Homo sapiens: one gene and its partner. The protein of the gene in region 1 purifies or fractionates together with the protein of each later gene. This does not show direct contact. Each region holds a gene or a part of one and is shown in the gene's direction. Other genes may lie near its edges. The genes, in order: ARID3C and ZNF609.

The links.
Region 2: the proteins of ARID3C (region 1) and ZNF609 purify together in Homo sapiens (affinity purification with mass spectrometry; one large-scale study listed by BioGRID and IntAct). This does not show direct contact.

What each region holds. Positions count from the first base shown.
Region 1 is NC_000009.12:34,623,019-34,626,289, reverse strand, and holds part of ARID3C (AT-rich interactive domain-containing protein 3C), read left to right. Parts: intron 1-475; coding exon 476-548; intron 549-2,242; coding exon 2,243-2,426; intron 2,427-2,575; coding exon 2,576-2,865; intron 2,866-3,271. UniProt on the Homo sapiens protein: Transcription factor involved in monocyte-to-macrophage differentiation.
Region 2 is NC_000015.10:64,467,078-64,470,577, forward strand, and holds part of ZNF609 (zinc finger protein 609), read left to right. Parts: intron 1-3,500. UniProt on the Homo sapiens protein: Transcription factor, which activates RAG1, and possibly RAG2, transcription. Through the regulation of RAG1/2 expression, may regulate thymocyte maturation.

The sequences.
Region 1 (3,271 bases):
TCTCTGCCCTTCAGTCACCCCCAGCCCTGGCATACAGGGATGTGAACACCATGAAGTCCTTGCATGAATGAATCAGAGCATCAGATATATGTTTGTCTCCTCAGTCTGGTATACAACCCCAGCCTAGCTTCCTTCCTGGGGCTCTAAATTTCCCATGAGGGTGGGGGAAGACTGAGCCCCAGAGGGCAGGCTGAGCCTCCAAGCTCCATCCTGTTCCTCTCTTCCCTTACTCCCCAGATGGGTGGTTTGAATGGCCCAGGGTACCACTACCAGTACCAGTCTCTGTATGTACTAGAAAAAGGCACCCCTGCCTGCCCCTAGGCGGAGAGAGCCTAATGCTAATCCCAGGGAGTCCACATTGAGATCCTACTGACTCCTTCAGCTAGGGACCCTTGTTCAGGGTACAACCTGAATTGGGGTCAAGGGAGGGAGGGGGAGTCAGCAGAGCTGTAGAATGACCCCAATCCTTCCCCAGCTGTATGAGCTCGATGCAGACCCCAAGAGGAAGGAATTTCTGGATGACCTGTTTAGCTTCATGCAAAAGAGGGGTGAGTGGCATGATGTGGGGGAAGGGCCCTGGAATTGCCCCCTTACCAGGTTTGAGGAAACCCGGTTGGGTTCTCCCTGCTGAGGCCTGAGCTTGGCAGCACCTGTCCTTTGGGCCCTCGATAGCGTCTTTAACCTCTGACCCTGTCCCCCTCCTCCACCCCAGGATTAATTAGTGGCCAGCCCACTGGCAGGTTAATGAGTTTGGGATCAATTGGGAGGGTGGGAGGGGGAACTGATGGGAGCCTGGCCTGGGGTGGGAGGGTCCCAGAATCAGAGGGCTGAGAATGCCTTGGTTCTGTGTCCAGGGTCCTTCCTCCAGCCATGTCTTCCCTGTTTTCCCTTGATTCAGGCAGGGGACACCTCACGTGCTCTACAGCAGGAAGGACTAGGAATAGACTGAAGGAAGGACTTCCCAAGGGGTGGGCTGGGGACTATGTGAGTTGAGGCTGTGGAGGAGGAGAAATTCCTTTCCAGGAATGTCAGAGCTGGAGGAGAACGCAAGAAGGGTCCAGGAGGGCATCAGGGTGGGCGGCAGTCCATCACTTCAGCTTTTTCCCAGATTCATGGGACCGAACACTGACTCATTATCTCTCTCTGCAAAGCTAATTAACTCACTCAGAGCGCAGCCTGATAAGCCGCTAATTAACTGGCTGCCCTGTTACCCCCCGCCCCCCCACCGCCTTTAGTGCAGCTGCTGGCCCACTTCCCACTCCCGGCCCTCACCCCAGCACCTCTTTCTGGTCCCTTACCTTCCCAGGGACCCTCAGTAGGGACCTAAGTCCTTTTGGTTCCCAGGGAGGCCCATTCTGGTTCCAGTGTTCCCTCTCTGGCCCTTCCTCGAGGCCTCCCCTCCACTGGGGTAGCGGGTGTGAACCGATCCCAGCATTGCCTGCCTCCCTTCGGTCCCTGCCTCCCACCGCTCCAGCTGCAGGGGGAGGGGGTCCCGCGGGGCCGATAATTTTCCCCCATTAATCAGGCCGCAGCTAATTGTTCGGGTCCAAAGGCGCGGCGGAAGGGGACGGGATCGGTAAGGAATTAACTGGGGCCCATCGCTCAGCGCAGACAGGCCCCTTTGTCAGGACTGGCCGGCGGGGGCGGCGCGGGCTGCGGAGTCGGCGGGCCGAGGCGGGAGTTGATTCTTTTCCCGCCCGTCATCCCCCAGCCTTGGGCAGCCACCCGGGGGCTGCTGCTTAGGGGAGGCCGGCTCTTCAGCACTGTCCGAAAGTCCTTCCTGCGGTCTACCCCAGGGGACAGCAAACTAAAGTTTGCAGGCCAAACCCAGCTGCCTGCAAGATAAGAATGGTTTTTACTTGTTTAAATAGTTGGGGGACAAAATTTAAAGATGAATAACATCTCCAGACTGGTGAAATTCGAATTTCAGAGTCTATATTATTGGAACACAGCCGCATCCATTCCTTCAGGTATTCTCTATGGCCGCCTTTAGGCTACAATGACAGCGTTGAGTAGTTGTGACAGAGACCATTTAGCCATCTGGCCTTTTACAGAACTTTGCCCCCCCCCGTTCTAGCCTCCTGTCCTTCTTGCTAAAACAGAGACCCTGGGGTTCTGTGGGCTCCGCCCAAGTCTCCCTCTTTCCCGCCCTCCCCGGGGCTCCCGTCCTGTATCAGTCCCTGGGGATGCTGCAGACAGGGTCTTCGTCTCAGTGTCCTGACGGCAGCCCGCTCCCCACCAGGGACGCCAGTGAACCGCGTGCCCATCATGGCGAAGCAGGTGCTCGACCTGTACGCTCTGTTTCGCCTGGTGACCGCCAAGGGCGGCCTGGTGGAAGTCATCAACCGCAAAGTGTGGCGGGAAGTCACGCGCGGCCTCAGCCTACCCACCACCATCACCTCGGCCGCCTTCACTCTACGCACCCAGTGAGGCCAGGGGCGGGAGCGGAAGGGAAGGGGGCACGGGTTCGGCCTGGGGCGGGAGGGGGGAGGGTCCCCGGGCGGGCGTCCGGCTGTGGGACTTGACCAGCTGGGTGCAGCCTCCCATACACTCACCGCCCGCTGTCCGCCCCTAGGTACATGAAGTACCTGTACCCGTACGAGTGCGAGACTCGAGCGCTCAGCTCCCCAGGGGAGCTCCAGGCCGCCATAGACAGCAATCGGCGCGAGGGCCGTCGCCAGGCTTACACCGCTACTCCGCTCTTCGGCTTGGCAGGGCCGCCCCCTCGGGGCGCTCAGGACCCAGCCTTGGGTCCCGGCCCCGCCCCTCCGGCGACCCAGTCCAGCCCTGGCCCAGCCCAGGGTTCCACCTCCGGCCTGCCAGCGCATGCATGCGCTCAGCTGAGTCCAAGCCCTATTAAGAAAGGTGCGAGGGGAGAATGGTAGAGGTTTCGGGGTCTCTGAGGTTTAGGTGGGCGCTAAGATATAGCAACCATTAAAATGTGAGGATTGAGGTCTGGGGAGGCATTGAGGTATGGGAGCAGTAAGGTCTGACGGGCTTCTGAGGTTTGGGGGTCACTAAGGTTTAGGGGTCCTGAGGTTTGCGGCCAAATGAGAGCTCTGGGGTACGGGTTACTGAAGTGTAGGGGCTGAAGTTCAGGAAAAGGTCCTTTTTTTTCTTTTTTTCTTTTTTTTTTTTTTTTGTGAGACGGAGTCTCGTTCCGTCGCCCAGGCTGGAGTGCAGTGGCGCGATCTCAGCTCACGGCAACCTCCGCCTCCCGGGTTCAAGCGATTCTCCTGCCTCAGCCTCCCGAGTAGCTGGGACTACAGGG
Region 2 (3,500 bases), on another chromosome or scaffold:
TTCTTGGATCAGAGTCCCAGAAATAAGAGATGGCAAATACCTGTCAGGTCATATCTAGTCCATCACTCAGGGGCAAACCTAGGATTTTTCTCTTGTCTCTGTGAGAAATTTTTCCTTCTTTCTTTTGCAGGTGAGAGCTGTCTGATGCCAGACAAGCTCTGAAACTGCCTTCTTTTTATTGTGTTCTCTGGTCATTAGTGTCTGGCCAACTTCTTTGGGGTTTTTTTCTTTTTTAATTCCATTTTTCAGGAATACTTCCTCCCAGCAATATCTCTACCCCTTCTTCAGTCCTTTCTTCTTGATTGTGGGCATCACCTTTGTGGATTCCTTTTGTACCATCAGTTATCTATGCCAGAAGTATCACTTTTCTGACCTTTGCCACAAGTGTCACTGTGGCCTGCTTTTAAGGAGGTACATTTGATGAAAACACAGGACATAAATTCTAGCAGGTGGTAATTAATAAAATACTTTAGAAAACATGTGCCTTAGCCCGGTGCGGTGGCTTACGCCTCTAATCTAAGCACTTTGGGAGGCCGAGACGGGCGGATCATGAGGTCAAGAGATCGAGACCATCCTGGCCAACATGGTGAAATCCTGTCTCTACTAAAAATACAAAAATTAGCTGGGCATGGTGGCGCACGTCTGTAGTCCCAGCTACTCGGGAGGCTGAGGAAGGATGATTGCTTGAATCTGAGAGATGGAGGTTGCAGTGAGTGGAGATCGTGCCACTGCATTCCAGTCTGGCAACAGAGCAAGGCTCTGTCAAAAAGAAAAAAGAAAATATGTGCCTTAAGTAACCCCTGTACTATATGAACAAATGTTGCTTCTTCTGTTCTAACACTTCTCTTTATGTGGATGAAATTTTATTTTTCTGTGTCTTTGTTACAGTTAAGATATTGTCTAAGAGTGTTATGTTTTCTTTACTAGTATGCTTTTTTTTTTTTTCTTTTTTGAGGCAGGGCCTTGCTCTGTCACCAGGCTGGAGCATAGTGACACAATCACGATCACAGCTCACTGCAGGCTCAACCTCCTGAGCTCAAGCAATTCTCCTACCTCAGCCTCCCAAGCAGTTGGAAGTACAGGCAGGCGCCACCACACCCAGCTAATTTTTTTTTCCTCCCTCCCTCCCCTTCCTCTCCTTCCTCTCTTTCCTTCCTTCCTTCCTCCTTTCCTTTCCTTTCCTTTCTTTTCTTTTCTTTTCCTTCCTTCCTTCCTTCATTTTCTCCTCTCTCCTCCTCCTTCTGCTTCTCCTTCCTTAAGACAGGGTCTCACTCTGTTGCCTAGGCTGGAGTGCAATGGTGCAATCACAGCTCATTCCAGCCTCAATGCCACCACACCTGGCTAATTTTTTTGTGTGTTTTTTTTTGTTTCGCTGCATTGCCCAGGCTTGTCTTGAACTCCTGGGCTCAAGCCATCCTCCCACCTTGGCCTCCCAAAGTGCTGGGATTATAGGCATGAGCCACTGTGACCAGCCCAATTTTTAAATTGTTTTTGTAGAGATGGAGTCTCACTATGTTGTGTGCCACTGCACTCCAGTCTGGTTGCCCAGGCTGGTCTCAAATTCCTGGACTCAAGCAGTCCTCCTTCCATGGTTTCCCAAAGTGCTGGGACTACAGACATGAGCCACAATGCCTGGCTAGTATAGCTTTTCAAAGAATAGAGGGGAAAAAATCATAGAATTGAGAGTCATAAAACCCAGATTCTGATCATTACTGTGCCTCTAATTAGCTGTTTGTCCTTGTGCAAGTCATGCCCCTGTTTTCATGTGCCTCATCTGTGAAATGAACACATTAGACAGGATGATCACTGCGGTTCCATTTAGCTGTAGAATATCATGATACCAAGATTGAGAGTCAGGTTGACACTTGTAGTCCTAGCACTTTGGGAGGCTGAGGCAGGAGGATCACTTGAGCCCAGGAGTTGGAGACCAGCCTGGGCAACAGAGAGGCCTCATATCTTAAAAAAAAAAAAAAAAAAAACAACACAATTCAGCCTGGCCAACATGGTGAAACCTTGTCTCTACTAAAAGTACAAAATTAGCCGTGTGTGGTGGCACATGCCTGTAATCCCAGCTACTTGGGAGGCTGAGGCAGGAGAATCGCTTAAACTTGGGAGGTAGAAGTTGCAGTGAGCCGAGATCAAGCCATTGCACTCCAGCCTGGGCAACAAGAGATAAATTCCATTTCAATAAATACGTAAATAATTAGCCAGGTGGTGTGCACTGTGGTCCCAGCTCTTCAGGAAGCAGAGATGGGAGGATCGCTTGAGCCCAGGAGGTCGAGGCTGCAGTGAGCTGTGATCTCACCACTGCAATTCAGCCTTCACTCGCACAGAGCAAGACCCTATTTCCAAAAAAAAAAAAAAAAAAAAAAAAAGATTATGGTGGAAGAACAGGACAAAAATATTTAACATAAGTGAGCATCTTTTTTTTTTTTATTGCTGGTCAAAAATATAGCCGGTATTCAGAAGGGCTAATGAGTGCAATTTCAGTTCCCTGGGGCTTGACTCTCATACTCTTTGATTTGTTTGGAAGGCTGTACTTTTATTAGGCCATCTTTTTTTGGAGGGTTTTGTAGCCTCATTCTGCAGGCTCACCAACTTGCCGCATATATCTTTTTCTAGTGTGCTTAAAACATAGGAGTGGAAATCAGAAAGCTGCAAAAAAGGCTGGCCTGGCTTGGTGGCTCACGCCTGTAATCCTAGCACTTTGGGAGGCCGAGGCGGGTGGATCAGCTTGAGGTCAGGAGTTGAGAAAGCTGCAGAAAAGGAACCTTAGCTTGTGAGAAGGAAGTTGTACCTGGAAGGATTTGCCATCTATCAATAAGAAGTAACTTTGTAAATTCAGTCAAGGATCTAATAATCTATTATATCTGAAATCTGGGAGCTAAATTGGACTGATTATGGAGGTTAGTTGGATATTTTTCCACTTTTGACTAGTCAGTAGAAATTCCACTTTGAATTAACTTCTTGGGACTGAGTACAAGTTGAGTTGCCCACAGTGTTTTGTTCGGAAAATAAAATTATGTTGTTATTTATTTATTTTTGACAGGGTCTTACCCAGCCTTGACCTAGTGGGTTCACCTCAGCCTTCCAAGTAGCTGGGACTACAAAAGTGTGCCACCATGCTTGGTTAATTTTTGTAATTTTTTTTGTAGAGATGATGGTTTGCCATGTTGCTCAGGCTAGTCTTGAGCTCCTAGGCTCAAGCCATCCTCCTGCTTCAGCCTCCCAAAGTGGTGGGATTACAGGTTTGAGCCACTGCACCCAGCCAATTACGTTATTTTTAATGCTGAAAATGCACGTTGATGACATTTGCCGAAGTATGACGAACAAGGGGGTATCTCTGAAATACCCTCCTAAAAGAGACGAGAAATGAAAAGCTGGTTGGTAAGTGTTTCAGGAACTTTCAGATTGAGAGTAATGTTAGGAAGTATTTGCTTTCAAGCAGTTTTTTTTTTCTTTTTGAGATGAAGTCGCTCTGTTGCCCAGGCTGGAGTGCG